Linked DNA regions of Homo sapiens: all the other regions are linked to region 2. Evidence: fine-mapped expression QTL. A gene starts in region 2. Each other region holds a variant in brackets. All regions are shown on one strand. Distances are between the middles of the regions. Region 1 overlaps ART3 (ADP-ribosyltransferase 3 (inactive)). Region 2 holds the start of SCARB2 (scavenger receptor class B member 2). Region 3 overlaps FAM47E-STBD1 (FAM47E-STBD1 readthrough). Region 4 overlaps FAM47E (family with sequence similarity 47 member E).

What was found. PIP is the estimated chance that this variant, and not a neighbour inherited with it, causes the effect.
Region 1: its variant is the best candidate, but not a certain one, in a credible set for the expression of SCARB2 in blood mononuclear cells (TOPMed, PIP 0.89).
Region 3: its variant is the best candidate, but not a certain one, in a credible set for the expression of SCARB2 in testis (GTEx, PIP 0.77).
Region 4: its variant is the best candidate, but not a certain one, in a credible set for the expression of SCARB2 in whole blood (TOPMed, PIP 0.51).

The regions. Positions count from the first base shown.
Region 1 is chr4:76,102,592-76,110,231 of GRCh38, forward strand. ART3 (ADP-ribosyltransferase 3 (inactive)) reads left to right here. Exons shown (of 12, transcript NM_001130016.3): 9 at 1,346-1,378; 10 at 2,006-2,038; 11 at 5,170-5,202. Among named protein-coding and RNA genes, the nearest start is that of ART3, 32 kb to the left of the region's middle. The variant G/A (reference allele first, on the strand shown) is at 3,376.
Region 2 is chr4:76,210,666-76,218,051 of GRCh38, forward strand. It overlaps SCARB2 (scavenger receptor class B member 2), which reads right to left and starts at 3,159. Exons shown (of 12, transcript NM_005506.4): 1 at 2,762-3,159. The coding sequence starts at 2,878. It also overlaps a transcript of FAM47E not described here. RefSeq lists silencers at 2,560-2,964, 2,878-3,497.
Region 3 is chr4:76,293,672-76,301,311 of GRCh38, forward strand. The region is part of intron 6 of FAM47E-STBD1 (FAM47E-STBD1 readthrough); the gene reads left to right. Among named protein-coding and RNA genes, the nearest start is that of STBD1, 9.2 kb to the right of the region's middle. The variant G/T (reference allele first, on the strand shown) is at 4,233.
Region 4 is chr4:76,262,622-76,270,261 of GRCh38, forward strand. It overlaps FAM47E (family with sequence similarity 47 member E), which reads left to right. Exons shown (of 8, transcript NM_001136570.3): 3 at 1,083-1,222; 4 at 6,039-6,147. FAM47E-STBD1 (FAM47E-STBD1 readthrough) reads left to right here. Exons shown (of 7, transcript NM_001242939.2): 3 at 1,083-1,222; 4 at 6,039-6,147. Among named protein-coding and RNA genes, the nearest start is that of FAM47E-STBD1, 15 kb to the left of the region's middle. The variant A/T (reference allele first, on the strand shown) is at 4,565.

The DNA of each region.
Region 1 (7,640 bases), 110 kb before region 2:
AGATAGAAGAAAGTACTCTTAATACAATGGTAAATAATTGGATATAGAACTGCATATAGAGTATAATATTAACTTTTAAAAATGTATATGTATATATATGTATGCATAGCAAAATGATTGAAATACACCAGAAATGTTAAGAATGAGTAGAGTATTTCCGAGATCTGCAGTTTTAAGAGAACTTTAATTTTTAATAATTTTCTGTATTTTTCCAAATTATCTATAACGTATTATATAGTTAGGAAGCATATTTTATATATTACATATAATGCCAATTTTGGGTCGAGGTCTTTGGGTTGAATTTTTAAAAAACGAACAAGAGGTGCTTAACCTAGGAGAGATTCTGGGTCACTAGCCTTAGTTCTTATCATCAGTTAGGCTCCAGTGGGTTAAATCTCTTCTTTTTGTTACCTTGTCCTCTGCCATTTCTCAAAGCGTTCTGAGTTTTCTACTACAGAAGTCAAGTATAAGGTCAAATTAATTTTCAAGCTGATGGCATTTTTTTACTAAATAGTTCTTATTCTCGTCCTTAGGAATAAAAAGCCAGAGGCTCACTGTTTCACCTGGGAAATAATCTATTTACTGAGACTAGCTACATGGTTAGGAGACGATAAGGATTCCTAGGATTAAGAACATTGTGAAAAGCCAGCACGGTGGCTCACACCTATAATCCCAGCTCTTTGGGAGGCGTAGGCAGGAGAATCATAGTGAGTTATGATCGTGTCATTGTACCCCACCACAGCCTGAGCGACTCAGCGAGACCCTGTCTCTCAAAAAAGAAAAAAAAATATTACTGAGCCTGGAGAGTTTGAGGAATGAGTTAGACAAGAACAAAGGGACTTCATTTATTGAGTACCTTTTTTCGCTCCGTGCAGTGTACCAAGCACTTTTATGCAGTCTTTCCTTCAATCTTCACTAACTACAAACCTAAGAGGTAAATATTTCTCTTGCAAAGTGAGAAACTAAAGTTAGGAGGGATTAAGTAGTCTGCCCAAAGTCACAGAGCTAATAACTATAATTACGATAGAGCTAAACCAAGCAGAAATGTAAAACCAGTAGTGTTTCATCCAAAAACTGATATATTGGGACTGCCTTCTGAAGATAAAGCTGGAGAGACGGGTTAGATCGTGGAAGTTCTTGAAGTCCAGGCTAAGGAGTTTGGACTCTGTCACATGGAGAATGAAGAGCCATTGAAAGGTGTTTTTGTTGTTGCTGTTTCTTTTTTCTTTCCCCCTGCCTTTTTTTTTTTTTGAAAGTTGGAAATGGAGGAAATATAGACAAAAGAAGAGTATTAACAGTATAAGATAACTGATTAATACAAACCAATATTTATTTCTGCCTTTAGGTGTGAAAATCCTTGAACCCACCCAAATACCTGGTAAGACAGCTTTCTATTTACTCCCTGAGCCCAAGAATGAGTTGAGCAGGATTCCCAGGCATTTAAGAGAATACTGTCATGAGACTATTATTCATGAATATTTCCCTTATAGCTACCTGCCAGTCATCTACAAATATTTAGCTGGGGAAGCGTAGAGAAGTCTCTTTCCTCCTGTGCATTCATGTGCTCCTGGAGCATTGTCTCTGGGGCAGGAAAGTTAGTTCTGCTCTGGATGTTGCTGAGGGGAAGGCTCCTGGGATCTGGATGCATCAGTCCAACACCTTCCAGGTTCTACAGCTAAAGTTATTCAATAGAAACCTACCTTTACGCACAAGTTGACTGTTAGTCTTGGCTAACATCTCATTGCCTGTATCTCCAGGTAACAAAACACGATATTCTCCTGGCATAAACATGCTCAGTGAAGTGCTATGGCAGAAGACTCCTCTAATCATGGTGTGGATTTGTATAATAAGGGTTTACGTAAGCAGAACTTTTAAATAAAAAGCCAGAAACTATAGTGCATTGGGGCCTTGGGTGCTTGCATCTCTTAAGCTCAGCAGACAAGAGTTTGAAAATTATACTCAGTGGAGCAAACTGTAAGTCATTGGAAACTTCCTTCTCATTTAGGAATGAAAATTCCAGAACCTTTTCCACTACCTGGTAAGCAACTGATAGGCATGCCAGAGGGGAACATGCCAGTTTGGGGAGTACAGTCACCATTAGATATGCATGGGACTTTCTATGCCTCATAATTGTCATCTATCAAATGTAGCCATCAGTAGTCACATGTACATGACAGGAATATTTGTAAGGACTATAAAACCATGGAATCTCAGGGTGCAAGCCACTGTCCAATGCATAAATCCCTTTCTCCTGAGTTCATGTAGTACTTTGAAATATTTTTTTGCAGGTTTTGTTATTATGGAAATGATGATCTGTTAAGGAAATTAGATATTTGGCATCTTAAAAACTATATCCAGCCACACAGTGCTGAACTTCACGTAACGCTGCTGTCAATGGAAGCTGCGTGCTGTATAAAGAAACAGCGTTTTCCATTAGTTAAATAAAGGCTCAGAGAACATAGGCTCAGAGAAAAGGGTCCAGGACCTCTTTTATATTGACCCAAATTTGCACTGTTGGATTTATTTGGCCACAACTTTGAAGTGAACCTCTAGTGACACTGATGACACACCTTGTGCGTCTACATCTCTTCAGCTCGCTAGTCCTGAGTTTGCACAGTGCCATCATTGGGGTCTTGCTCATCTGGCTATCTGAAAGGCAGCCACCGAGCATGGTGGGAGATGAACATGAGCTGTGTAGACAGATAGACCTGGCTTCAGGAAGTCTCTGCCACTTTCCTCTGAGTAGCTTTATATAAGTTACTTCACTTTCTACGCCCCTGCTTTCACATCTGTAAAATGAGGAAAGCTTCTGTCTTGCAGGACTGATGAGATAAAGTACCTAGCAAAGTACCTAGCAAAATGAATGGTGGTAACATAGTAGTAAATGGTAGCTGCCTTTGTTATTATCTGAAAACCTCTTTCTTGTTTAGGAATAAAAATGATACAACTGAATGAAAAACCTGGTAATATATTCTTTATTGGGGGTGGAGGCACCATGGATTCTAAGTCCTTTACCATAATCATTCAGTTAGTTCAGTCTTATGGGGTCTGGGGAAGACATCTGGGCTGTACACTTTCCGATATCCCAGTCTGCAAGCCAGACAGGGAAAGTGTTGAGAATTTCTTTCAGTGTGAGCAGCAGGCTGCTATTACGGTTCTCTGGGCCAAACATCAAAAAAGGCACTTGATCTTAAACTGGAACAGTTGGCTTCCAGCTGGGCCTGTCTATTCCAGAATGAGGCAGGCTTCTCAGGGTGAAGGAATCTGTAGACATAGAAATAGCATCATCCAAGAACTGTGAATGAGGACTGTGCAGCATGCCAATACTGGGACCAGCCATTCTGTGTGCTCCTCACCACACTCTACAATCGTCCA[G/A]TAGGCCACTAGATTTTGTTGGGACTACAGTGTATTGTGCCCTCTCCTGGAAAGCTATGTGTAGCTTTTTAAAAGGTGATGTGAAAACAGTACACAGGAGCTCATTTAATCCAATACGATAAATATTATTGACACTTCAGAGATGAGAACATGGAACATAAGAAGGCTAACAAATTTATAATAGGCTAGAGACAACCAGGACTCAAACTTTTCAAGCTTTGTTCACTTTGTGCTACACTTGTCTTCCAAACAGATTTAGTTATCCACTTCTATCCTGGGCACCTAGAATTGGTATTTGGCTTCAAAGCTGTTAAAATATGGTAATATCATAATATTTCTATGCTAGGCACACACTTGGTAGTACAGATGGTCTCCAAGTTACAATGGTCAGTCTGTAAGAAACACGAAAAGGTGGCTTGCCAGTTAGGACAGATTTATTTTAGAGAAAACAAACTTGAGAGGCGCCTTCTGGCCGAGTTAGGTTAGAGGCCCACTTTTTTACAGACTAAGAGTTTTTAAGGATTTAGGGTGGGAGAGTTTATCAGCGGCTTGGACTGCTTCTGTGTCTCTTTGTTGTGCTTATCTGGGAGAGAGCGTTGTGTGTCTGTTCCCATACATCATTCTGCAGCTGCAGGCATATTCCCCAAGTCTGCTTTTAGCTTCCCTAACTTAGTGCACCTGAAGAGAAAGGAATGTGCTTATTAAGGCCCACTGTTTTACTGGGGCCCACTGTATGAGGGCGAAGTTTGGGAGTTACTCAAGAGACTTCCCCCCCACCTCCCTTTGTGCCCGAGCTGTTTTATCTGTGTTTTACTGTTTGCTCCTTCTGGCTGCTTGTAGTTAGAAGAGGTGATTTCCTTGAAATGCATGAGGCTAGAAAGGGAGCTCGAATTTAAAGTGGTGGTGTTTGTCCAAGATGACGGTGCTCCTGCTCTATCAGGTTCAACTTGGGATTTTTTGATTTTGCAATGGTCTGAAAGCCATACACATTCAGTAAAAACCATACTTCAAGTACCCATACCGTTCTCTTTTTCACTTTCTGTACAATATTCAATAGATTACATGAGACATTCAATATTTTATTATAAAATAAGCTTTATCTTAGCTGATTTCGCCCAACTGCAGGCTCATGTAAGTGTTCTGAGCACGTTTAAGGTAGGCTAGGTTAAGCCATGATGTTCTGTAGGTTGGGTGAGTTAAATGCATTTTTGACTTATGGTATTTTCAGCTTACATTGGATTTATTGAGACACAACCCCATCATAAGTCGAGAAGCATCTGTATAGCATAGTAATTCAGAGCAAATTTGAAATTAGATATTTCTAGCACCAGTTACCCCCGTGATTTTATGCATGGCATTCCTCAAAACATTTCATAAATGTTTTAAGGAATATCTGTGAAATATGGATAATTATACCTGGCTAATAAGACTAAGAAGTAAAGGTGACAGTGTACATAAAGCATTTGCACAATGCATGGCACATAGTGAACACTCAATAGTAGGTATTAATGTACTTGGGAATCTAAGTTCAATATGTAGAAAATACTTTTTGTGAATAAAATTTTAACTTTTATTTTTATGTAAACACATATTGATGGGAAAAAAAATTCAAAGAGCACAGATGAGAACAAATTAAACCCTTCCCCTAACCCCACACATACCCGTAAACCTATTACCCTGCCCCTCAGACCCACTCACAGAGATAACCAAGTTTGCTTAATTTTTAATCAGATCTTTCTTTTCTGGATAAACAGATATACAATATAACTAACTCAAAATCTCTTTATATTTTAGAAGATAAAAGTCAAGGAAATATCAACAATCCTAGTAAGAAGTATCTCATTTCCTCAGTTGATAAATGCCTGCTTCTGTAATATAGAAAAAGTGAGAAATTTATTTTTCCTCAATAAAGGGAACAAAGTTGCAAGGTTTTAAGGCATCTTAATAACAGAGTATAATGTCATATCCAAAAGCTTGTGTGTGCATGTGTGTGTTGGGGACAATATAGCTTTGTTTTTTCGATAATCGTTTTCCATTGTATCTAGAGTTTCTACTCTTAGAACAGTGGTTCTTACCAGTCTGAAGACTGGGAGCAAAATATAAAAATAAAAAAGAAAATATATATTAAAAAAAAAAAGAACAGTGGTTCTCAACCCAATTCTCCCTTTATAACAAGTATTTTATAAAGTCCTTATATTATCCAGAAAGAAGATCCATAGATGAGATGCATTTGTACCCATAAAAATCAACATCATGTCTAAAGTAGACCGATGTTTACATTTATGCAAATAAATTTGGGTTGAAGAGAAGATTGGAAGCTATTCTATACAGGAAGTATAAGAAAATGGAGTGAAGAAATAGAGTAGATACTAAATAAAAACTGATGTTTAATGTTTATCAAAACTATTAAAAATATACATAAAACTGCTTTAGGTTCTGAGTTTGATTATTTTAAATAGGTTTTAACTTACATGTATGTCTAGCAGTACATTTTAAAGTTGTGCAGGAAGTTGGTCAATTTTTCATGGTCCAGAACTAGAGCACTGCAGGATATCTATCCCTCTACCTCCACTCCACTGTTAGCAATGATTAAAAAAAAAAACAAAAAACTCTTGACAATCGTCCAAACTGCCTCTTGGGGCAGTAATGCCCCCCTGAGAACCACTGGTCTGTGGTAACATACAGTCATGCATTGCTTAACAAGATGGGGTATGTTCTGATTAATGTGTTAAGTGATTTTGTCGTTGTGCAAACATCATAGTGTGTACTTACCCAACCCTAGATGGTATACCCTGCTACACATGTAGGCTACATGGTATAGCCTACTGCTCCTAGGCTATAAACCTTTACAGCATGTTATTGTGTTGAGTACTGTAGGCAGCGGTAACACAGTGGTAAGTATTTGTGTATCTAAACATAGAAAAGTTATGGTAAAAATATAAAAGATAAAAAATGGTACAGGTGTATAGGGCACTTAACATGAATGGAGCTTGTAGGCCCAGAAGTTGCTCTGGGTGGTGTTGAGCGGATGTGAAGGCCTGGGACACTACTGTACACTCCTGTAGACTTTATACATACTATACAGAGGCTACACTAAATTCATAACAAATTTTCCTTCTTCAATAGTAAATTAACCGTAGCTTAATGTAACTGTTTTACTTTATAAACTTAATTTTAATCTGACTCTTTTGTAATAACACTTAGCTTAAAACACACATTGTACAGTAGTACAAAAATATTTTTTCTTTATATCCTATTCTATAAAGCTTTTTTATCACCTTTTTTTTTAACTTTTTAAACTTTTGTTAACAACTAAGACACAAACATTTACATTAGCCTAGGCCTATACAGGGTCAGGATCATCAATATCACTGTCTTGCACCTCCACATCTTGTTCCACTGGAAGGTCTTCAGGGGTAGTAACGTGCATGGAACTGTCACCTCCTATGATAATGCCTTCTGGAGTAGCTCCTGAAGGACCTGCCTCAGGCTGTTTTATAGTTAACGTTTTTTAATAAGTTGAAGGAGTACAGTCTAAAATAATGATTAAAAGTATAGTAAGTACATAAAACAGTAACATAGTTGTTTATTATCAAATGTTATGTATTATATATAATTGTATGTGCTATACAGTTATACAACTGGCAGTGCAGTAGGTTTATTTACACCATCATCACCCCAAACACGTAATATGTTACAACGGCAACGATGTTGCTAGGCAGTAGGAAATTTTCAGCTCTATTATAATTATAGTCTTATGGGATCTCTGTCATACATGTGGTCTGTCATTGATGGAAACATCATTATGCATTGCACGACTGTACTAATGCATGTGTGCATCTGCCTATCCACTTCTCTGTGTGTATACATCCAACTGCATGTTTATAACTATGGCAAGTACATTGATAATATGAAGGCTTTTACAAATCTGACTGGCTATTTTTCTTGGTTTTATTTATGAAATCTGAGTGGTGATCCCATTTGGATACTTCCAGTCAACGCTTCCCCGTAGTTCAAACAAAAAGAGTTTAGGTCAGCATGAAACAGTTTATCCTGTGGATGGACTCCACTGCTCCTCTCCACTAGTTCAAATGAAAGGGAAAGAGTTTCTCCAGCAGTGTATGTATGGAGGGAAAAACATTTATTTTTTTTTTATCATCTTGCAGAGATTAGTGTTTAAAAAACAATGCAGCTATAGTTAGCCCTCTGTATCCTCTGGGATTCAACCAACTGTGGATCGAAAATATTTGTGGGAAAAAATAATA
Region 2 (7,386 bases):
ATTACAGGCCTTGCCCAATACGAGGCAGTCACCACTGAGGCCAAAAATGAAACAAAATTGTCTTGGTTCCTTCCACGATATTCACTGGCCAAAATTAAAAGTCTCTCTTCAGTTACCTCTGGTCACTGCAGGGTTCAAGGACAATTATCATTTGAGACAACTTTTTGGATAGGAATTCTCTTACTAAGCTTCCCACACCTACTCATTTGAATTTCATCCCTTTTCCCTCTTCCCTTTTTGACATAGACAAGTCGGGGCATAGACAATCTTCAAATGAAAAAACAAAGAACTGGAAATATCAGAGTAGATTATATTATAACTACATTAGAATCAAGTTATGAATGAATTCTCCCATAGTAATACTAGTGGCAATAAAGATGACTGCCACATATTGATTACCTATTCTGTGCCTGATACTATGCTAAGTGCTTTATACTTGGTCCTACAATAATACACATGCAGAGACAAATCCAGGTTTTGTGGGTCCTGAAGCTTATACAATTTGAAGGGTCCTTCTTAAGAAAAAAGAAAATTTGGGATATAGAATGAGGTACAGGGCTTCGCAAGGGTCTGTGCAAGTGAGAGACCCAAAGCTTAACTTTGCGAGTTTCATGGTAAATGCATCACTGTGCCCAAGTTAGCTAACAGCTCATATCCCCAGTTTTACAAGCAATGAAATTGAGGACCAAGTAAGTTATTTGACGTAAGTCATAAAGCTTATACTGGCAAGGATAGGATTTGAACATATGGAATCTGACTCCAAATCTCACGTATTTTCTTTGTGTGGCTTCTAATAAAAATAAAGTTGCTATCACCTATTAAGCACTAACTATATCCCAGAAAGATCACACCTTAAGGTTATAAGAATTATTTGACAAAGCAGATGTGATCGTTAGTCCTTATTATCCCTATTTACAGATGGGGAAAACATGAATCAAGTAAGATTAAACAGCCCACGGTCACCGAGCTGGGACATAGTGGAAGCTAGGTTTCATGCCCAGGAGTGTAACATCCTCAATCTTTCCCACTGTCCCATGCTACCTACCACCCTACAGGTAATCCAGGAAAAAGCAGAATAGCGATGTGTGACTTACCTCTAATGACAACAGTATTTCCACACCTGCCCACTGAAACTAGCCCTGTCCTTTAGTTTCATACAATACACCGTGCAGTCCTCCTTAGCTGGGATTGAGCAGCTCTGAAAGTCCACTTCCCTGTACTATTACTTATCAGAACAGAGTCCATTCCTCATGGAGAAAAACACTTGGAAATATCAACACAAACTCAGGCCCCAGCCAAGTTGCCTTACAGCCACCCCCTCACCCAGAGAAATGGAGACACACAGAGAATCTAAGGGCTGGCTATATGGGAACCACGGGGAAGATCACTCATCCTATAGGGCTCCTTGAAACAGCCTTTCAAGGCCATATAAGAAAACTCACATATTTACTATAATTGGATTGCTTTACTCTAGTCACCCAAAGCAAGAGTTTACATCCTCAAACACAGCTCACCATGGATTTGGACATGGACAGGAGTGGAGAAAGGATTCAGTTTCTTTTTTCCTTGAACATGATTGCTCAAAGGAAACTGACCCTCGAGACGCTCAGACAGTGGGCCTTGTCTTCCCTTGGCAATGTGAACTTTAAAAATTACATTATGCTTTGCCATGGTGCTTTTTGAAAAACTGCCTTTAACTGCCAGATTTCAGGTACTCACTTAATTACTTTTGGAAACTCAGTTAAAGGAAGATATCCATTGCCACCTGGAATAAAATAGCTTTACTGACTGGAGAGTGCAGTGATTCAAAGTAGACTAGGCCTGGGCTTTTTTATCTGGCCGCAGCAAGTGCAGACCAGTGGGAGAAATGAAGCGTGCAGTTATGGATGCTAACAAGAAAGGCTGCTGCTCCAGTGATTATTTTTCTTTTTTAAGGAAAAAATGATCCCAGTAATTCTCTTTTGTTCCTCTTTTGACACAGCTTGGTGGATGTGGGGGAAAGGGCAGATGAAATGACCAGTGAAATCAAAAGATGAAGTCTTCTTAAAGGACTGGCTCTCCAGCCCAATCATCTAGAGGAAGAGACAAGTTCAGATTCTTGTAGGGTATCTAAATGCATCTGTGCCTGAAAATTATGGCCGTTTGAGAAAAACAAGAATTCATGGTGAGACAAAGCAACACAGACTGTTGGTACAAGATACAAAGCCACTAAGTCAGCGTTCAGCAAAGACTGATGGATGAATTGTCACCCAGCCTAAAGGACTGGCCCAGCTACCAACTGCCCCTGCCCAGCCCAAGAGGGCAAGAACACAATAGACCGCACACCCACGTCTCATCCCCAGGCGCACACCACTTCAAAGGCTACAGCAAGCAGACAACATAACCTGCCTCTTCTGCGGTGTCTTTCATTCAGTTCTGTTTCTTCATGAAGTGGGAAGGAAACAAGTTTGGGCCCACCTGAGATTGGGGTGTAGACGGAAGGAGTGGGGAGAGATGCAAACGACAGAACACAACCGAAGGCCTTTTTAAAAGTCAGGATCCATAGCCTTACTTATCACTGTAAAGGGAACAGAGTCGGCTCCATCCTTCCTCATCCTTCTTTAACCCTCGCCTACCAAGCCCTGGAAGACAGGGACGCAAGAAGAGCTCTAGCGCGGAGGGTCTGCCTGAGTGCTGGTCTTTCCCATACAAGATGTAGCAGCAGGGATGGGAGGGTGAGCTGGACGACTCCACAACACACACACAGCCCGCCCCGCCTCACCTTCTCGATACTCTGGTCTACAGCCTTCTGGAAGACCCGGGCCACCAGCAGCGTGACGCTGGTCACCAGCAGGAGCAGGGACAACGTCCCCGCCGTGTAGAAGCAGCATCGGCCCATTCTGTGCGCCGCTCACGGGCCGGGCCGGGCCGCACCCGCCAGGGATCCAACTGCAAGGAGGGAGGAGCCGCCGCAGAGGCGTCGAAGACCCGGGACCCTTCGGCGCCACGCCCACGCCCTCCCGGCGCACGGTTCGTGCGCGCAGCTCTGGGCTCCGCGGCCTGGCGAGCGCGGCCCCGGGTGCACCGGGCGGATGGGGCCGCGGAGGGACGGGCCCGGACTCGGTTTCGGTTTCCTTCGCCGGGCAGCCGTGGCGCCCGCCTAGCGCAGCTCGGGAGAGTGCAGGGAGCGCGCAGGGACGTGACGTTCGCGGGCCGGGCTCGCCGCAACCCCGCGAGGCAACCGCCGGCGACTGCGCGGGGAGGCGGGCGGGGGCGGAGGCCGCAGTCATGTGCCCTGCGGCGGCGGCAGTGATTCGGCCCGCGCCCTCCCCGGCCGGTCCCCGGTGGCCCTGAGTGGCTGCGGCGCCTGAGCCAGGCCCGGCCTGGCCGCTCCCAGCGCCCTGCACCGCAGGCCCAGCGCTCGCCCCACCGAAATTGCCGAACCTGGTTCACACACTCATTTACTCATTCCGCAGATAGGTCTGAGGGCCTCCCATGGGCCACGCGCTGGGGATTCAAGGTGGCTGGGACATTCCCCTGCTCTAGAGGCGCTCGCAAGTTAGCGGGGACACCGTTACCGCAATTACAACACAATGTAGCAAGTGCTTCTACCAGGTGCCTGCTGAGATCATGCCAGCAAGCATGTTCTGCCTGGATGACCTAGGGCCCCACATTGAACTGGGGCCTGGGGGATGCATAAGTTTGTCACGTAAGGGGCATGTGCAAGAATGGAAGATGTGCAAAAAAGGGAGGAGGAGGCATTTCACGGAGAAGGAAACGGTGAGCAAAGGCATTGGGGGTGAAAGAGCAAAACCTGTAGGAAGCAAGAAGGAAGTTCCTTTTGACTGTAGGCTCAGGTGTTCAGGGGGTGGAGTCGGAGGTGTTGAGGCCCCAAGAGGTCAGACTTTGAAGGGCTCTTGGTATCCTGTTAAAGATGTGGAAGTTGGGAAGGAGCTTAAAGCAGGCATCGCTGGTGTTCTTGCCTGCTTTGCTCACTGTGGTGTCCCAGACACCCAGGACCAAGACCTGCACACAGCCAGGACTCAAGAAGTGTTCGTTAAATGAGTGTTTCTTCTACGCCAGCCCTTTACTAGTTTCTTTGCACAGTTCTACTCATTTAATACCCTTGGCAGTCCTATGAATAGGAGGTTGTGTTTGTCCCAGTCCTCCAGAAACAGTCCCAGATGGGGGTACTATGCAAGAGAGTTTTGAGGGAAAACAGGGAGCTGGACCTGGGATGCAGGTGTGATCCTTGTGAAGGAAAGAGGCAAGCAAGGAAGGAAGGTTGGGTGGAAGGAAGCATTTGATATATATACAGTCCATGTATAAAAAGTTCAGCAAGGCCATTGGGGTGGGGAATCCTTTAGCCAAATGGGCTTGTCCCAGAAGTCTGGCATCTCCCAGAAAGAGGCCCGCCTTAGTATCCCTGCTGTGCTCAGTCATGAGCTGGGAGCAGCCTTAGGAAGCTGGCCTTTGCAGCAACCTAGGGATAAATATCAGGGTATGGATTTCAGCAGAGCTCAGCAGTTGAGGCGGAGCCATTGGTCAGTTATGCTATCTACACTGCAAGATCCAAGAAGTACATTTTCTTGGCAACTATAGTGTATTATCCTCATTTTACACTCAAGAACACTGGGGCTCTGAGTTAAGTAACCTAACAAGCTCAACTGGTTGCTGAGTGGTGGATCCTGCTTGAACCAGGATGTAGGGCTGGCTGTTGGCTTCCAAAACCCTCACTTTTTCTACTCTGCGCATTGCTGCATCCCGATCTGTCACTAATGAGAATCTGAGGACAGCAAATCAGTTAGGAGGCTTTGTTGAGGACTTGGTGAGATAGCATGATGGTTTAAAAATGGTGGCAAATTATTTGTTACTCCTTTCGTTGAGAGGTGGGGTCTATACTTTCTCGCTTTGAATTTGGGCAGGTTTTAGCAATTTGTTAAACCAATAGAATACAGTGGAAATGACCATATCCTGGAACTTCTGAAGCTAGATCATAAATGCCTTGCAACTTCTGCTGGGGCCTTTGCAAATTCTTGCTCTTGGAGCCTCAAGTCACCCCTAAGTTCAGCTACCCGGAGACTGCTGCAGAGAACATGGGAAAGACTGTGGGGAGAAGCCCTGAGTCTGTAGGAAGAGAAATGTCCCACCAGTCCCCAGCTGTCCCTAGCCTTTTGAGTCACAGGCCCTAGACATTACAGAGCAGAGGTGAGTGGTCCCTGCTGAGCCCTGCTCAAAATGCAAAATAAAGGATTGTTGTTGTTTAAGCCACTGAGTGTTGGTGTGGTAGGTTACTCAGTAGATAACTGGAGCAGATGGTAAGGGCAGAACTGAGGCTGGGACATTTTGTAGCTACCAAAGCTCTTCAAGCAGCAGCCCCAGAGGACCAGTCCTGTGTTCAAATAGAACCTGGTGGGGTCCTGAATGATTCAACTGTCCCCAGCCTGATGGGTGGGTGGTCTCCAGTCCTCAGGTGTCCACAATCGGCAGCCTTTCTCTTCCCCTAATCCTGCCTCTTCTCTGCTGTTAAGTTTCAGTTAGCTACATTAACTCTGCTCTGTGCCCCAGTTTGCTTAAGGAGCAATGCTAGCCCACTAACCCTCACATGTCCCCTACCTAGGCATTGGTTGAAGTCCTCCTGTCATCTATATGTCCTCTCCTTCCCTAACTAGAAAAAAAAATTTGGTAACTTGCCTGCCTAGGTACTTTGGCACTCAGAAGTTCATGCTCACACTGAACTTCCACCCCCTACTCTCTGACTGCTACAATCAGATTTTCTGTTTGCGGGCTCCATTCTGGAGGGCAAACTCCATAGGTACCCACTCCTCCCATCCCTGGACCACCAATCCCAGGGTACTCTTCCTTTTCATTGTTCATTGAGGTCCCTTCTTCTCTCTTGTCTGGGCCACCAGGACAGTAACAGACTGTGGGGATGGAGAGATGGAGACAAATTTGATAAATGTATCTTAGTGTGGGAGAGTTTCTAAACAAGGGTTTACAGCTCAAGTTGCCCTCAGTTTACCTGCTCTCTGAGGATCTCACTCTGTTTCCACTATGTCAGGCGGTTAGTAAGCCACTTCCCCTTTAAAACTCTGGACAAGCCGAATGAAAATCTCTTTCTTGGTTCTTCTTAACACAGCTGACCAGGCTAGCATTTTTAAATGTGTTAACATAAGACAGAACAAAAAGGACCTAATTACAGAAAATATAAACAGCTTTTAAGAAAATAATGTATGTTCCCAAAATAGCAGTCTGTGATCCCACAGTAATCTCTGTCTTATCACCGAGGCTGGCATAACTTTTTAGCAGCTGGCCTGGCTGTCTTTCTGTTCAGTTCCATCTTCTCTACCCACAGCTATGTTCAGAAGCTTTTGACACAAAGCCCCAAAATCCAGATTTAAGTTTCTCAATGCCCTTTGGGACTTCCTCCTCATTTCTGATCTATAGGACATGTCTGCACCGCTAATTGGCATTGTTAGTTTATTGCCACAGGATCATCTCACCCTATGAGAGACTTTGCCCTCTCATCCAGGGAGTAGCCCCTGCTTGCCAGCCACTAATAACCCTGAACACACTCTGGAGGGGCAGACAGCTTGGGAAGGGGTTACTGCTCCCAGAGTTTAGATGAGGAGGCTGATGCCAGGGCAGGGAGACAATCAGGACTCTTCCTGGTGACTTCTCTGCTATGGTTTGGATTTGTGTTCCCTCCAAATCTCATGTTGAAATTTGATCCCCAGTGTTGGAGGTGGGGCCTAATGGGAGGTGTTTGGGTCCTGAGGAGAGATTGTTCATGAATAGATTAATGCCTCCCTCAGGCATGAGTGAGTTGTCAGAGAGCGGGTTGTTGAAAAGAGCTGGCACCTCCTCCTTCTCTCTCTAGCTTCCTCTCTGCCCATGTGCCTCACACAGGTGTGCTCCCTTTCTGCCTTCCCAGGAGTGGAAGCAGCCTGAGGCCCTCATCCAATGCAGATGTCTGTGCCGTGCGTCTTGTCCAGCCTGCAGAACCATGAGCCAAATAAACCTCTTTTCACTACCCAATCTCAGGTATTGTTATAGCAACACAAACAGACAAGGGCGGAAAATGAGGAGACTGATGCTGTGGCAAGGAGATACGGTGATCTCTCTATACCTAAAATCAGAAGACTTTATCTGAGAAGAACAAGTACACTTAATGAATGATTGCTGGTGCCTGTTGAAATTATGCAATCATTCGGGACTTAGAAAAAGAGCTTTCTTCACAGACTCTAAGGGCTATCGAGGGGAAGCAAGAGGGCTCTTTGGGCTCTACCTTAAATTTAGAATGTTGATACTATACTCAAATGAGTTTAATGATGTAGTCATTGTATACTTTTATGTTCAAAGTGTTAATGTGTTAAATATAAACATTTAAAATACACCACAGGCCGG
Region 3 (7,640 bases), 83 kb after region 2:
GTGTTCTAACCAAGTCCTGCCACTTATTAGATATATGACTATGGTCAAATTGCTTTTATCCTCTCTCTGCTTCAATTTTCTCATCTAAAATAGGGATGATTACAATAACAGTACTATTTCCCAGAAATGTGGTGAGGATTAAAGGAAATGTTGCAAGTAAAGTACTTAGAGCAGAGCTTGGCACACTGTGCACACACACTAAATGTTAGCTGACTTTATGGCGTGGTGAATCAGATAGTCCCCAGCTTATGATGAGTGCTAGCCATGAGATTAGGCTGCTGTATTTACCAGTGCTCAGCAACAAGCCAAAATCTGTTTCTCAAAAGGAGAAAAGTTACATGCCACAGAATCCGTGGCTTGGCTGCAAAACTCTCAGAGCCTGTGCTGGATGTTCCAAAGCTCCATTCAGCAGCCCTGTCTGCCACAGGCATTTCAATAACATTGGATCCACTGGATCAGAAGACAGAGCTTCCTGGACCAGTGAGAAAGCATACTCTTGCTTCAGGCTGCACTCAAAATTGGCAACCTCTCAGATTATTAAAAAAACTAGCTGAAACAGCATGTCTAAATCTGGTCTCCAAAATTCAAAGACACACCATTATAGAGTATTTCCAACACCCAGTTATAATACATATAAATAATCTGAGCAGCATAGATAATAATAAAAAGCTGTCAACTAGGAAGTGATGAGTTTGTAATTATCTTTGTTTTTCACATCATTTATTTAACTGTAAGTATATATAATTTGTTTTAATAATGGTTGTGTTTAGCAATCAGCTCACTAAATTCTTGAAAATTTGTCAGTTGACCTTTGTGAGTTGGTACAACCTGTCTCTAGCACCTTATTGACTATAGAATTCAAGGCAATGAGGGATGTTAGGAGCAAAGAATGAAGAGAATTGTTTTCCCCTACCTCCAGTAAGGTTACTCCCACAAAGAATAACATTACAGAGTCTTCATGAAAGATGGAAAAAGCCTCATCATGAAGGGAGATTTTCTCTGACGAGGAAGGCTGCATTAATTCAGGTGTGCCAAGAAGCAATGGCAAGATGGGAATAGATGTTCTTGAGCTTTACTGAAGGAAGGAATGGGAAAAGATAGAGAGAGCTTTAGACTGTGATGCCTGTCTGATATCTGTGGAAGGAATAAGGGAAGGAAAGAAGATTGGTGTAAGAAGAATCTTGGACTGTAGCACAATTCAAATAAAGGTTTCGCCAGTCCAGCAGGAAGTCCTCAAGTTGAAGTTGCCTAGAGGAGGAGTTTCACTTCTTGCCAGAATGGGACTACCTTGGTGCTTCTGGCATGCTCAGTCATTGGTTAGGGGTAGCCCATGAGAAGCATGGCCTCAGTGTGAGGGTGGAGGATCCAGGGAGGCAGCAATTTGGTCCACCAGCCAATGATGCTCTCTGCAGCAGATGATCTGAGTAGCATATTTTCATAGGGTTGGGAGTTTAGGGTACTTGGAGCCCACCGTATCTTCCCATATGTTCCCATTTCAGGATTCAGGGTCTCACTTTTTCCAAACAATGTTCTAGCTTCACATAAGGTATCCTAAAAACCTGTGAATTCAAATGATGTCTTAACTTAGCAAACTAAACAGTCAATTATCTCTCTCTCTCCCAGTTCAACAGTTTCAAGACATATTTCTTTAGAAAATTCCAAAGAGCCCCTGATTTGGGGATTTGTGTTTGTTTTAAAATATGTCCACAAATTGGCCAGGCTGGTGGCTCACACCTGTAATCCCAGCACTTTGGTGTGCCAAAGGCGGGTGGATCATGAGGTCAGGCGATCAAGACCATCCTGGCTAACACGGTGAAACTCCATCTCTACTAAAAAATACAAAAAATTAGCTGGGCATGGTGGCAGGCAACTGTAGTCCCAGCTACTCGGGAGGCTGAGGCAGGAGAATGTCCTGAACCCAGGAGGCAGAGCTTGCAGTGAGCCGAGATAACACCACTGCACTCCAGCCTGGGCGACAGAGCAAGACTCTGTTTCAAAAAAAAAAAAAAAAGTCCACAAATTATTTGATACTTTTTCAAAATGTGGTGTCTAATTCCCTCCACTCAAGTGTAGTTAGTGACTGTAGTTAGTGGGCTGTACTTAGCGACTTGCTTCTAATGAAGACAATGTGGGAAAGGTGATGATGCCTGATTTCTGAGTCCCAATCACATCAGGTGAAATTGTGGCTTCCTTCTTGTTCTCACTTGGATCATCTGCTCTGGGAGTGTCTAGCTGCCATGTTGTGAGGACACTAAAGTTGTCTATGGAGAGGCCCACATAGCAAGGAACTAAAGCCTTCTTCTAGCAGCCATGGGGCAAGCCATCTAGGAAGTGGATCCTCCAGTCCCTAGTAAGTCTTCAGATGAGACTGCAACCCCTGCTGACATCCTGACTGTAGTCTTACGGGAGGTCCTGAGCCAGAACCACAAAGTTGCTCTTGAATTCTTGAATCACAAAAACCACTATAATGTTTGTTGTTTTAAGCCATTAAGCTTAAGATTTATTTGTTAAGCAGTAATAGGTAACTAATATAGATTTTGTTACCTGGAAGTGGAGTGCTGCTATAACAAGAACCTAAAGTGTGGGAGGGAGAAGAACTGGGTAGTGGGGTGGAAGCTGGAAAATTTTGAGAAGACTGTTAGTAAAAGCTTCAAGGGCCTTAAAAACACTGTTAGTAGAAGCCTTTGAGGAGGTGACAGCTTGTAGGAAAATGAGGTAATGTTATTGGAAAGTGGGAGAAACAGTCTCCTTGTTATGAAATAGCAAAAAGTTTAGCCCACATGGAATGTAGAAAAGGCAGCTGATGAGCTGGATGATCTAACGAAGGAGATTTTCATACAGAATGTTGAAGATACTGCCTGGTTTTCATTTGCTGCTTACAGCAAAATGCAAGAAGAAATAGATAAGCTAAAGCAGGACAGCTTAAAAAGAGGAACCAGGATTTTATGGTTTCGAAATGTCTAGCCTCTTGGATAGCAGATAATGTTTAAATTAAGGAATGATATGGGGCAAAGACAAAATCCAGGACATTGCCAGGAAAACATGGTCTAAAGAAGACTCCAAGGATGTAAGGATGTAACTGTTAAATCCTTTGTTAAGACCTCAGAAAGATAAAAGGTGTTGCCTCAGCGTACTGTTCAACTAGACAAAAGGCTCCCTAAAATTTTCTTAGGTGTGCTACAGTTTCTTTTGATCAAACAAATAAAGCTTCTAAGAAGCTGAAGATGTTGTTCTTCACCAGAAGCCCATGGTAGAGAAGGGCTTATCTTGAATTGATTTGTAGATTTGGCTTTTGAAAAATGGCATGGACCCAATAAGAGTCACAGGAAATCTGTAAAGTTTTTCAAAGAATTGTATTGGAATAAAAACTGCCAGCTTGGACTAAAAGGGACAAAGACAGTATGAAATGAAAAGAGGCCTCTGGATCTCCATAGTTCTACTGGCAGAAAGCAGACTGAGAGAACTTCTCAGCTACACATATGTGCTTCCATTATAGAACAGATGACTCAGAGGACATAACCAAGAAAGTGGAAACAAAGGCCATGCAGAATTATTCCTAGTTGAACAAAGTTCTAATTGAGGACCTTCTACAATTTCCTTGGCTGCTTTACAGAATTGCCATGGAGCAGTGACTCCTGTATGCCTCTATTTTTCTCCTATTTTTGGAATATGATTGTATATGGTGATTATATTGTGTCTGTTCTACTATTATATGTTGGGTGATGTTACAGAGGGTGGGGGTGGGAGGGATAGGCATATACCTTTCTGTCTTCAGATTGAAAGGAAATGCATTAGAATAATTGTACTTAGGAAGTACATCTAAGCAGTTTCATCTGTACCTGGGCCTGATTCAGATTCTAACATTCTGGATTCCAAACTGATGCTGTAAAGGGGTTATGGGAGGATTTTGTAAGGGTGGGGCTGTGGGGGTAAGTATATTTTACATATGAAAAGAATGTAAGTAATTTGTGGCTAGAGGACAGATTGGTCTTGTCTTAAAATATGTTCACAAATTCTGTGATACTCTTTCCTTCAAAAGATGAAGCTTGATTCTGCTTTTCTTGAGTGTGGGCTGTGCTTAGTGGCTTATTTCTAAAGAATAGAATGTAGCAGAAGTAGCGATGTGTGATTCCAAAACTAGACTGTAAAAGGCATTGTGTTCCCTCTTTGCTTTCCCTGAGATCACATGCTCTGGTGCAGATTTTCTCAGCCCAGGCAATATTGATGTTTTG[G/T]ATCGAATTTTTCTTATTATTCTTTGTTGTGAGGGACTGTTCTGTGCTTTGTAGAATATTTAGTATCACCTCTGGCCTCTACTCACCCAAAATTCCCAGAAGTTGAATTGCTATGTCAAAGGATATATGTACATGCAGCTACACACACACACACACACACACACACACACACACACTCACATAGTTGTTTATTCTGTCTTGTTCTTTAAGGTTTTTGGATATAGAGTGCTAAGTTGCCTCCAAAAAGGTTGAATTTTTTCCCTATTAAAATATATTGTTTATATTTGAATTTATTTTTATCATTGGTGAACATTTTTAAAAATGAACATTTAAAAATGAATTTGGTCTATTGCATTTCTTTGTGACTTAGCTCAATTTTCTCCTGGGGCATGAGCAATGGTGTGCTCACAGGGCCTGCTTTCACTGTGGGCAGAATAGGCAGTATTACACATTCTGGTTAGAAGAGGTGGGGAAGCCCTGCTTTCCCCCATCACCCTCCAAGGTAGGTGTGCAGGGTATAAAATTCTTACATTAGAAATGCATTATTTGCCCACTTTTTAATGGGATTATTAGTTCTTTTGCTGTTGAGTTACTTGTATATTTTGGATATTTGTCCCTTGTTGGATGAATAGTTTACAAATACATAATGAAATCTAAGTTGGCTATAGAATGAAATCTTGTCATTTGCAACAACATAGATGAAACTGGAGGATATTATATTACGTGAAATAAGCCAAGCACAGGAAGACAAATATTGCATGTTCTCATTCATATCTGGGAGCTAAAAAAGTTGACCTCGTGGAGGTAGAGGGCAAAATGATAGTTACCAGAGGCAGGGAAGGGTGTGTAGGGGGTGGGGGAGGAATAAAGAGAGAGGTTGGTTGGTTAATACAGACAGTTAGATAGAAGGAATTAATTGTAATATTTGACGCCAGAGTAACAAAGTACTATATATTTCAAAATACCTAGAAGAGAGGACTTGAAATGTTCCCAACACATAGAATGATGGATACTCTAAATACCCTGACTTGATCATTACACATTCTGTGCATGTAACAAATACCACATGTACCCCATAAAAATGTACAAATATGACATATCAATAAAAAAATGCATTATTTTAGTTTGTCCTCCCTCTAAACTGATTTTAAAATATCAAACAAGTTCACTGTAAGGTACTGGTGACACATCAACTTTCTTTTTGACAAATGTTCACAGATAACAATATTTACAGTTCCGTGGTTGGGTGGATGGGTGGAATCAGAAAGCAGTTAAAGAATAATACTGAGGCCAGGTGCAGTGGCTCACACCTGTAATCCCAGCACTTTGGGAGGCTGAGGCGGGCGGGTCACAAGGTCAGGAGTTTGAGACCAGCCTGACCAACATGGTGAAACCCCGTCTCTACTAAAAATACAAAAATTAGCCAGGTGTGGTGGCACATGCCTGTAATCCCAGCTACTCAGGAGGCTGAAGCAGGAGAATCACTTGAACCCAGAAGGCGGAGGTTGCAGTGAGCCGAGATTGTGCCAACCGCACTCCAGTGTGGGCAACAGAGTGAGACTTTGTCTCACAAAAAAAAAAAAAAAAAGAATAATACCAAAAAGAGGAAGAAGACAAGAAACGAGATAAAGGGACACCCCAAACTTTGCCCTCATGGTGGCTTTGCTAGATCTGTCCTGGTCTAATCTACCTCATTCTCTCCCAAGAAGATAACTGTCAATGCTTTTAAAAAAATCTCTTGGACATTTACAGCCTATATTTTGGTGGTACATGCTAGTGCTTGACCATTCTTGATATTCATTTATTCATTCACTCAATAAATACATATTTTGAGCCTCTACCGTGTAGGACACTAGGCACCCTATAGGTCACTGGGAGAAAACTATAAATTCCCTGCCCTTGTGAGCTTACAATCCAGTGAGGGAAACACACCTTTAATCAAAGAAGATAATATGGAGAGTGACATGGGCAATTAATGGGGTGCAGGGATGGAGAACAGCAGGGGGCAGGCCTGCGGAAGTGAGGGCAAGGGCCAACTTTGGTTGGGGAGGATCTCTCTGAGGAGAAATTTGGCTTACATTCTCTCTAGTAACAGTGTGCACCTGGTGGGAATTGGGAGTCTTTCACTCATGATTACAATTATTTGAATTGTATCTAATTGTGTGAGGAGCTGGAGTGCATGGCGTGGTCCGGCAGGTCTGACTGGAGGAAGCAGAGATTGCCAATGGCACCCATGGGCTCTTCCCTTTTCTGTGTGCCGGGCCCGCTGCCCCTGCCCTGGACTCTCCCTGACTCCACCCTTCAAAACTTGCCTGTTCTCCTCTTCCTTCCTCCCTCATATTTCCCTCCATTCTTCCTCACTTCCTCTTTAAGCCTGCAAGGTTTGAGTTCACCTTACTCCTTAGTCTCTTTGCTACTTACAGTGAGGCCAACAGACCAGTATCAACTGGCAGCTTGTTAGGAAAGCAGAATCCAGACCCCACCCTGGACCTCTTTGTTTATTTATTCATTCTCCTTTTATCCCAACTCCTATTCCTATACTTTTGCCCACCAAACCACTTCCTTTAATGTGTTAAGAATTGTTCCTAAATATGCATGTATCTTTGAAGCCTCAGTAGTGCTATTTTGAGTGTTTATGTATTTTCAACTTGCATAAATATTATTGTACTGTAAGTCATTGTTTCTTGCCTTTCTAGTCACCATTATGTATTTAAGATTTAATTACATTATGTCTAGATCTTGTTCATTGTTCTAACTACCGCATAGTATTTCATAGGCATCTATCGCATTTTATTTAGTTATTACCCTATGATGAACAGCCAGGGGCTTTGAACTTGCCGTTGGCCCAAGTAACACTGTATGTCCCTTATAGTCTTGTGCACATTTTTCCCTGGGCCTACATGTTGAGGAGTGGGATTGCACAGCCATTGGCTATGTGCATACTTAGCTTCACAACACTCTTCCAGAGTGTTTGTACCTGTTGGCTCTCCCAACAGCAGCACCACACAACTTCTTTCTAATATTTGTCTCTCTGATGGATGTAAAATGGCATATCATTGTTTTAATTTGCATTTTTCTGACTATCAATGAGTTTAAGCATTTTTTGTGTCTAATTTTATTCAGCCAAAAATTATTGTGCCTATTATGTTCCAGTCATTGTTCTGGGCACTGAGGAAAGAGCGTCCCTCGTCCATTTTTATATTGGATCTTGCGTCTTTTTCTTGCCAATTTGTACGAGTTCATTGTAGAGCTAGGTATTAATCTCTTATCAGTTTTAGACAACACAAATATCTTCCCCCAGTTTGGCTCTATCTGGTAACTGTTTATGGCACCCTTCATTGACCAGATAGCATCATTTTAATGAAGTCAAAATGTTTTTGGCCTCCTATGTTAGGCAATGTCACATTG
Region 4 (7,640 bases), 52 kb after region 2:
GGATTTACATAAAAACATTGAAACTTCATCAATGAATGAAGAGATGTCCTTTTTTGTTCATCTGTATTTGTGAAAGATAACATTTTTTGATATCTTGGTTCTTTGGGTAACTGCACATAGAGTGGTGTCCCATCATGATTGTTTTTTGTTTGTTTTTTTGAGACAGGTTCTCATTCTGTCACCTAAGCTGGAGTGTAGTGGTGCAATTATAGTTCACTGTTACCTCAAACTCCTGGGCTCAAGGGATCCTCTCACCTTAGCCTCCAAGTATCTAGGACTACAGGAGGGCACCACCATGCCTGGCTAATTTAAAAAAATTTTTTAAATAGAAACAGAGGTCTTGCTATGTTGCCCAGGCTGGTCTCAAACTCCTGGCCTCATGCCATCTTCCTGCGTAAGCTTCCCAAAGCACTGAGATTATATGCCTTAGCCACTGTGCCTGGCCCCATTGTGCTTTTTGATTGATTTTGTCAAAAGGCTTAGGTTGTACATCACTGTGTTTCAGATGACTGAAATTATAAAGCAGAGTGCACACAATTGCCAAACATAGTGGTATGCGTTTATACATATCACTTTTTGAGCTATTTCTTCATGAATATGGTTTCCCTGCTCATATTATAGCCATGTGACTGCTAGTACACCTGACTGTTTATGCTTGCAAAACTATGTATATTGTTATTGCCTAATTCGTTGTGTAAAATGGCCAATGAAGTGTTCTCTCATTTTTACATTTCTCAAATAAATCTCCATCTAAAAATTTAAGTGCCTTTAAAATACTTTTTTTGCAATTTTTTTTCAGAATTATAGTTTTGGGATTTTAATTTTGGGGATTGTGATTTTGAGGATTTTAGACTTTAGGGATTATGATCTTTTAGGATTTTAACATTTGGGATTATGCCTTTTGGGATATGGTCCAAATCTATCCATAGCACCCAGCATAATACTTGGCACAGAAGTTGGTGAACAGCACTGATGGACTGAAAAGGAAAAGTGAAGGGCAAGTTGGTCTGTTTTGTTGTAGAATGGGGACTCCCTTCTTCAGCATGTTTTTCTTTTCCTCTAAGACTATTTTCTGTTTGTAGCTCTTATCAAAGGTGCTGGAAGTGCTTGATCCTGACCGGAAGCTGGAGGACACATGGGCTTATTGTCAGGACACCAGGAAAGGAATGAAGGAACCCACGAAGCTTTTAAAAAAACATTCTACCCAAGTCTACCTGGGACCGTGAGTATTGTTCTTAACCCTTCGATCATTGCTGTCACCTGATGAAACATTCTAGGAATTACCTTCTTAAAACTTCTCATCTTTAGAATACTTCTAATGAAGCAAATGTAACTAAGTTCCCAAGGAAGAGGGAAAGGAGTCCTAGGTACCGCTCTAAATAGTGCTTATTTCTTCAAGGGATGTGATTTATCCAGCGACGACGCAGACACAGGCGTCTATAAGGAAATTCCAGAGAGAGTCCCTCCCTATGCTTGAGGGGTAGAAACAGTGAAGGTTAGAAAATCCTTGATTTTGAGGCAGCTTCTAAGGCTTTCCAATTTCCTTTAATTCAAAAGTGCTCAGCATGCCAAAGCACCATACTTTTGGGGTATCATCCTTTGTGCCCCAAGAAATGTCAAGGCTGGAGGGCAGTGAAGAGATCACAACTCACTGCAGCCTTGAGTTCTGGACTCAAATGATCCTCCTGCCTCAGCCTCCTGAGCAGCTGGGACTTCAGGTATGTACCACCATGCCTGACCTAAGCCTTTTTTCTGAGTATAGGTCTACTGCTTGGAGTTTCCACCCATCTTTTTTGCATAAACCATACCTGTAATACTACCTTCATTGACCCTTCTCAAAGCATTAAGCTTAACGAAAGCACCTCCCTTTTGTAACACATTCTTGATTCCCCAGTCAATATAATATTTAATTAAATAACATAAACGCAGTGATAAGTTTACTGGACACAAATAGATTTGGGATACACATTTTTTGTTTGTTTGTTTGTTTTTGAGACAGAGTTTTGCTCTGTCTCCCAGGCTGGAGAGCAGTGGCACAATCTTGGCTCACTGCAACCTCTACCTCCTGGGTTCCAGTGATTCTTATGCATCAGCCTCCCATGTAACTGGGACTGTAGGTGCCCACCACCACACCTGGCTAATCTTTGTACTTTTGGTAGAGGCAAAGTTTCGCCATGTTGGCCAGCCTAGTCTTGAACTCCTGGCCTCAAGTGATCTGCCCACCTCTGCCTTCCAAAGTGTGGAGATTACAGGCATGAGCCACTGGGCCGGGCCTACATTTGACTTTTGAAATTAAAGACCTCACTGATGGGTGCTGAAGAGTACGGTGAACTAGAGAGTAGCCTATCCACAGTACCCAGACACTTAGAGGAGTGTGGACTGTGGTCAGTGTGTTTGGTGGGGGCCATGTAGAGCTTGTTGGTCACACACATTACCTACGTGGAGGTGGATTTAGAGGGAATCTACTGCATTACATTATATATGTTTTTTAGGGTAAGACACAAGGTGAGAGGAACTCTAGTCTTAGGACATTTCTGACTCTTCAGTCCACCTCCTGGTAAATGTAGGAAGGGTAACTGGACGTGCTTGTCTCAGTTCTGCCTTTCCTCCATGAGGAGCAAGATGGCCCATGGGAAGCACAATTTCTCCTTGCTTCCCCATTCTAGAGGGGAGGACTGTCCTGGTCCAGCCTTGCAGGGGACTGGGTGGAAGGGTCTGCCAATTTCTGAGTGTCAGTTAGCAAGTCCTCTTGGACCTAAAGCCATGTCGTCTATCATGGCTGCTGTTATCAGTGAAGGGGATATTTTGGCTACTGTCTTTGCTCTCTGTATTGTTTTTGAAGTTGCTCAGAACTTGGGTGAGGGAGCGAGAGGAGTGTTATATGTAGGGATCTGTGATATAATAAATATATTTGGTCTTTGTCCCCAGTTACTGACACAGGGCTCCTAAAACCCTTGGGATTTCCTGAGTGACAGGAATGCTTTTTGTTATTCATAAGGAGCCCCTTTTAGTCACTGGTGAGTTTATGCTAATGAGGTGCTCAGGTTGAGGCCCCTAGATTGTCTTAGAATGTGGCTGGTCATCAGAAAGACCAAGTGATTAGAGGGTTAGAATGTTCAGTCCCACTCAGTGTGACCTCTCAGAGGGGAAAGAGAGGGGCGTGGCTGAAGATTAAAAACTCTTGAACACATATATCTGATGAACCTCCGGGTTGATGGACACATCCAGGTGCTGGCAGGATGCAAGCGACACCAACTTCCACTCACCAGATAATCTGTCCTTTCCTTTAGAGCAAAATTTTTTGAAAGAGGCATTCATACTCACTTAGTCTTTTTCTCTCCAAACAACAATCAGGCTCTTATCTCCACCACTCCACTGACCTGACCTTAGTCAAGGTCTCCTTTGACCTCTATGTTAACTAAATCAGCTCTCAGGGATCACCATACTTGTTGTATACATAGTAGCAATTGACGTAATTGATCATGTCCTCTTTCTCATAACACTTTCTTTACTTGGCTTCTGGAACATCCCTCTTTCATGGACCTCTCCGTAGTCATCTTTTACTGGCCGCTCTTTACCTTCTAGCCTTGAAGTACTTTGGTCTTTGACGTCTTTTCAGCACGTTTACTCACAACCAAGTGACCTCCTCTGGTCCATCTGTATATGGTTAATTCAGTATTTGTCCTTAGTTGTATAATTGGCATCTCAGACTAGACAAACCCAAAACTGAACTCTTGTTTTCTCCCCCGAACTTATTCCTCCTTCTGTCTTCCCCAGTTCAGTAAATGGGAACCCCATCTTTCCAGTTTTTTTCTGGAACAATAGTTGCAATCTGCCAGCAAATGGTAATGACTTTACTTTTGAAATGTATCCAGAATCTCACCTTCTCCACTACTACCAGTCTATTCCAAGATTCCATCACCTCTTGCCTGGATTGTTGCAATAGCTTACTAACTGGTCTCATGGCCTCCACCCAAGCTCCCCTCTCTCAAGTCTATTTGTCACACAGTAGCTGACATAATCCTTTTAAAAATGTAAGTCAAGTCGTGTCATTCCAGTGCTTGAGATTCTCCAATTGCTTATTTTTCTGAGTAAAATCCAAAGTCCTTACAACTGCCTTCAGAGTACTGTATGATTAGGTCCCTGTCACCTCTCAAGCCTCATCCTCTACTATTCTACTCTTTAATTACTCCGCTCCACGGGACTTTGTGTTCTTTGGACATGCTCAGCACACTCCCAGCTCAGCTCTTTGCACATGCCATTCTTTTCTGTCTGTTATCTGCATGACTTGACATTTACATGGTTTGACCCCTTTCTTCTTTTGGGTCTTTGGTCAAATATTACTTTAATAGAGACAACTTCTCTGTATAAATAAAATGCTCCCTACCATCACTCTCCATCCCCCTCCTGTCCTATTTTACTTTCTCTATATAACTTATAATCACCCGGCATATGTTTGTTTACTATCTGTCTCTCCTATTCAGTTGTATACTCTATGAGGACAGGGGCTTAAGTTTATTTACAGTTCAATTCTAATGCCTGGCACATAGTCTGTGCTTACTGA[A/T]TATTTGTTGAATGAATGGGTGGATAAATTAATATGAGTGTTATGAATAAAAGGTACAGGGGCTATGAATAAAGAGTAGCTTCAGGGGACAGCTTGTGGGGATGCCTCCCCGAGGAAGGCACATGTATGTTGAGATATGAAGGGGATAAGGAAATGGTGACAGCATTGCAGTCAGATGCAACAGCTCAAGCAAAGGCCCAATGGCTGGAGGGAGCAGCATGAATTCACAGAACTGAGAGAAGGCCACATTGGCTGGAGCTCAGAGAGTAAAAAATGGTGGTGGGTCCCAAAGAACCTGGAGAGCCAGGCCATGCAGAGCCCTGGAGGTTGTGTCAAGATTTAAGTCTTTATTGGAGGAATAGCAAGAGGCTATTGAACACAAAAGCTTGTTCATGAATATCCATAGCAGCATTGTCCTTAACAGGCAAAAAGTGGCAACAGCCCAAAAGTCCATCACCTGGATATGTTTGTGAATGGATAAACAAAAAGTGGTCTATGTAGACCATGGAGTATTGGCCATAAAAAGGAATAAACTACTAATACATGCTACAACATGGATGAGCCTTGAAAACATTATGCTAATTAAGAGAAGCCAGACACAAAAGACTGCATATTGCATGGTTCCATTCAGATGAAATATCCAGAACAGGCAAATCTACGGAGACAGAAAAGTAGGTTAGTTGTTGCCAGGAGCGAGGGAAATGGGGAAATGGTGAGTGATTATTAATGGCTGCGGGGTTTCTTTCGGGGTAATAAAAATGTTCTGGAATAAGATAGTGGTGGTGGTTGCACAACTTTGTGAATATATAAAGGGTACTCTCATACACTTTTGAAGTGGTAAATTTTATGAATTTCATGGTGGATGAATTATATCTCAATTTTTATAAAGAAGCTATTGATGGTGACGAAGCGTGGCTGCATTTGATATGTCCAGAGTTACATTTTGAAATGACTGCTTGGGATGCATTGTAGGGAATGGATTGGGGGTTGGAGGTTGGGGGAGCCATAGGAGTTGATGATGCAGAGACACTAGCATTTTGCAGCAGTCCAGAGAAGGAGACAGTTACAATCTGCCAGACCTTAACTGAGCTGGATTTTAAGAATGTTAGAGAAGTCAAGGATGACTCCTACTTGTCAAGGTTGCCTGAGGCTTTGGTAGACTTCAAGCACAGTAATTTGGGCTTTTACCCAGTACATGTTTTAATAAATGGTACTCAAAATTTAAAAAAATCAACTTATAATGGTAAATGCTATGTAAGTTTTAATTATTATAACTAATCATGATATACTTGTCTTTATGATATTCGTAATGAGAATGTGCTCTTTGAAAAATTAAAATACAATTTGTATGTGAGCTTGCAAGAGACTGTTAGAAATACTTGCTTTATGATTTCCTTTTGCCTCTAAAACTGTTTGAAATCCATTTGGATTCATTGTGTCTCATATTGTAATTCTTTAATGATCTTATCTTTAGTTCCAAGAAGACGTCTGTGTCAAACGCAGGCCAATGGCTTTATGAAGAAAAGCCACATAAAATGGATTTGCTCCATGAAAATGGTCCTCGTCCTGGTCTTCATGAAAATGTATGCAAAGCAGTTAGTGACTTCTGCAAGTGGGTTACTACTTTTGTAAGTTAGTGGTAATATTTAAACCTACTTTTAAATGTCAAGCTCAAAGTTGCTTTTATTAAAAAACAGTATTGGATAAAATCTAAGTCAAATCCTCAAAGTCGTAAAGGAATCATTTTCTTCTATTATGTATAAATAGAAATATTTCTGGTAGATGAAATTTCTGGAAAGGTTGCAAACTTGCTGCTAATTTGAATGTTTATGTTTACATCTCACATCATTGCAGCTGTTTCATATTTTTATTTTCCATTTTATTGTTAGGACTTTCTTTTCTCTCTTTCACTCCTTCAACTCATTTTTCTTAGTTAGATTTACCTAGAAGTACTCTGGCAGGTACTCCTTGATTATAATCTTCACACAAAAATGTTCTGACATGCCAGGTGCAGTGGCTCATGCCTGTAATCCCAGCACTTTTGGAGACTGAGGCGGGCAGATCACTTGAGTTCAAGAGTTCAAGACCAGCCTGGGCAATATGGCAAAACCTTGTCTCTCTTGTATTTTTGTAAAAAATATAAAAATTAGGCCGGGTGCAGTGGCTCATGCCTGTAATCCTAGCACTTTGGGAGGCCAAGGTGGGTGGATCACAAGGTCAGGAGTTTGAGATCAGCCTGACCAACATGGTGAAACCCTGTCTCTACTAAAAATATTTAAAAATTAGTCGGGTGTGGTGGTGTGCACCTGTAATCCCAGCTACTCAGGAGGCTGAGGCAGGAGAATTGCTTGAACCTGGAGGCAGAGGTTGCAGTGAGCAGAGATTGCGCCACTGTACTCCAGCCTGGGTGACAGGGAGAGACTCCGTCTTAAAAAAATATAAATAAATAAATAAATAAAAATTAGCTGGGCATGATGGTGTGCCCCTTCCCACACAGGAGGCTGAGGTGGGAGGATTGCTTGAGCCTGGGAAATCGAGGCTGCAGTGAGCTGTCATCATGCCATTGCACTCCAGCATGGGCAACAAAGCAAGATCCTGTCTCAAAAAAAAAAAAATCTGACATAAAGAGACTTTTGACTCAGTTATCAAGGTCTTCCCTTGTGCGCCTTCCAAGAACCTATATAGTTGCCTATTCCTGTTCCTGAGTCTCTGTAGATGTCTAAATACCTGATGCTTTTCTTGGATTTAAGGTCTTTAGGATTTGCATTCCATGTCCCCACCCCATCTTTTGAGTGTTAGTTTTAGTCAATGTATTTTTTTTAGTACTTTAAACATCAAGCTACTTACTTCATTGGCAAGTGACTTAAATATAATTCAGATTGGTTTAAGAGAGAAAAGGGAAGCATCCAGATATAGTAGGAACTTCAGGCACAGCTGGATCCAGGTGCTGAAATATTTTTAGATGTTGTTCCTATCTTTTGGCTGTGCAACTTGGACTTCATTCTCAATCAATATTTCCCCAAGAAATGGCAAAAGTAGCCACTAAAATTTCCAAGCTTATATCCTACCAGCGAGC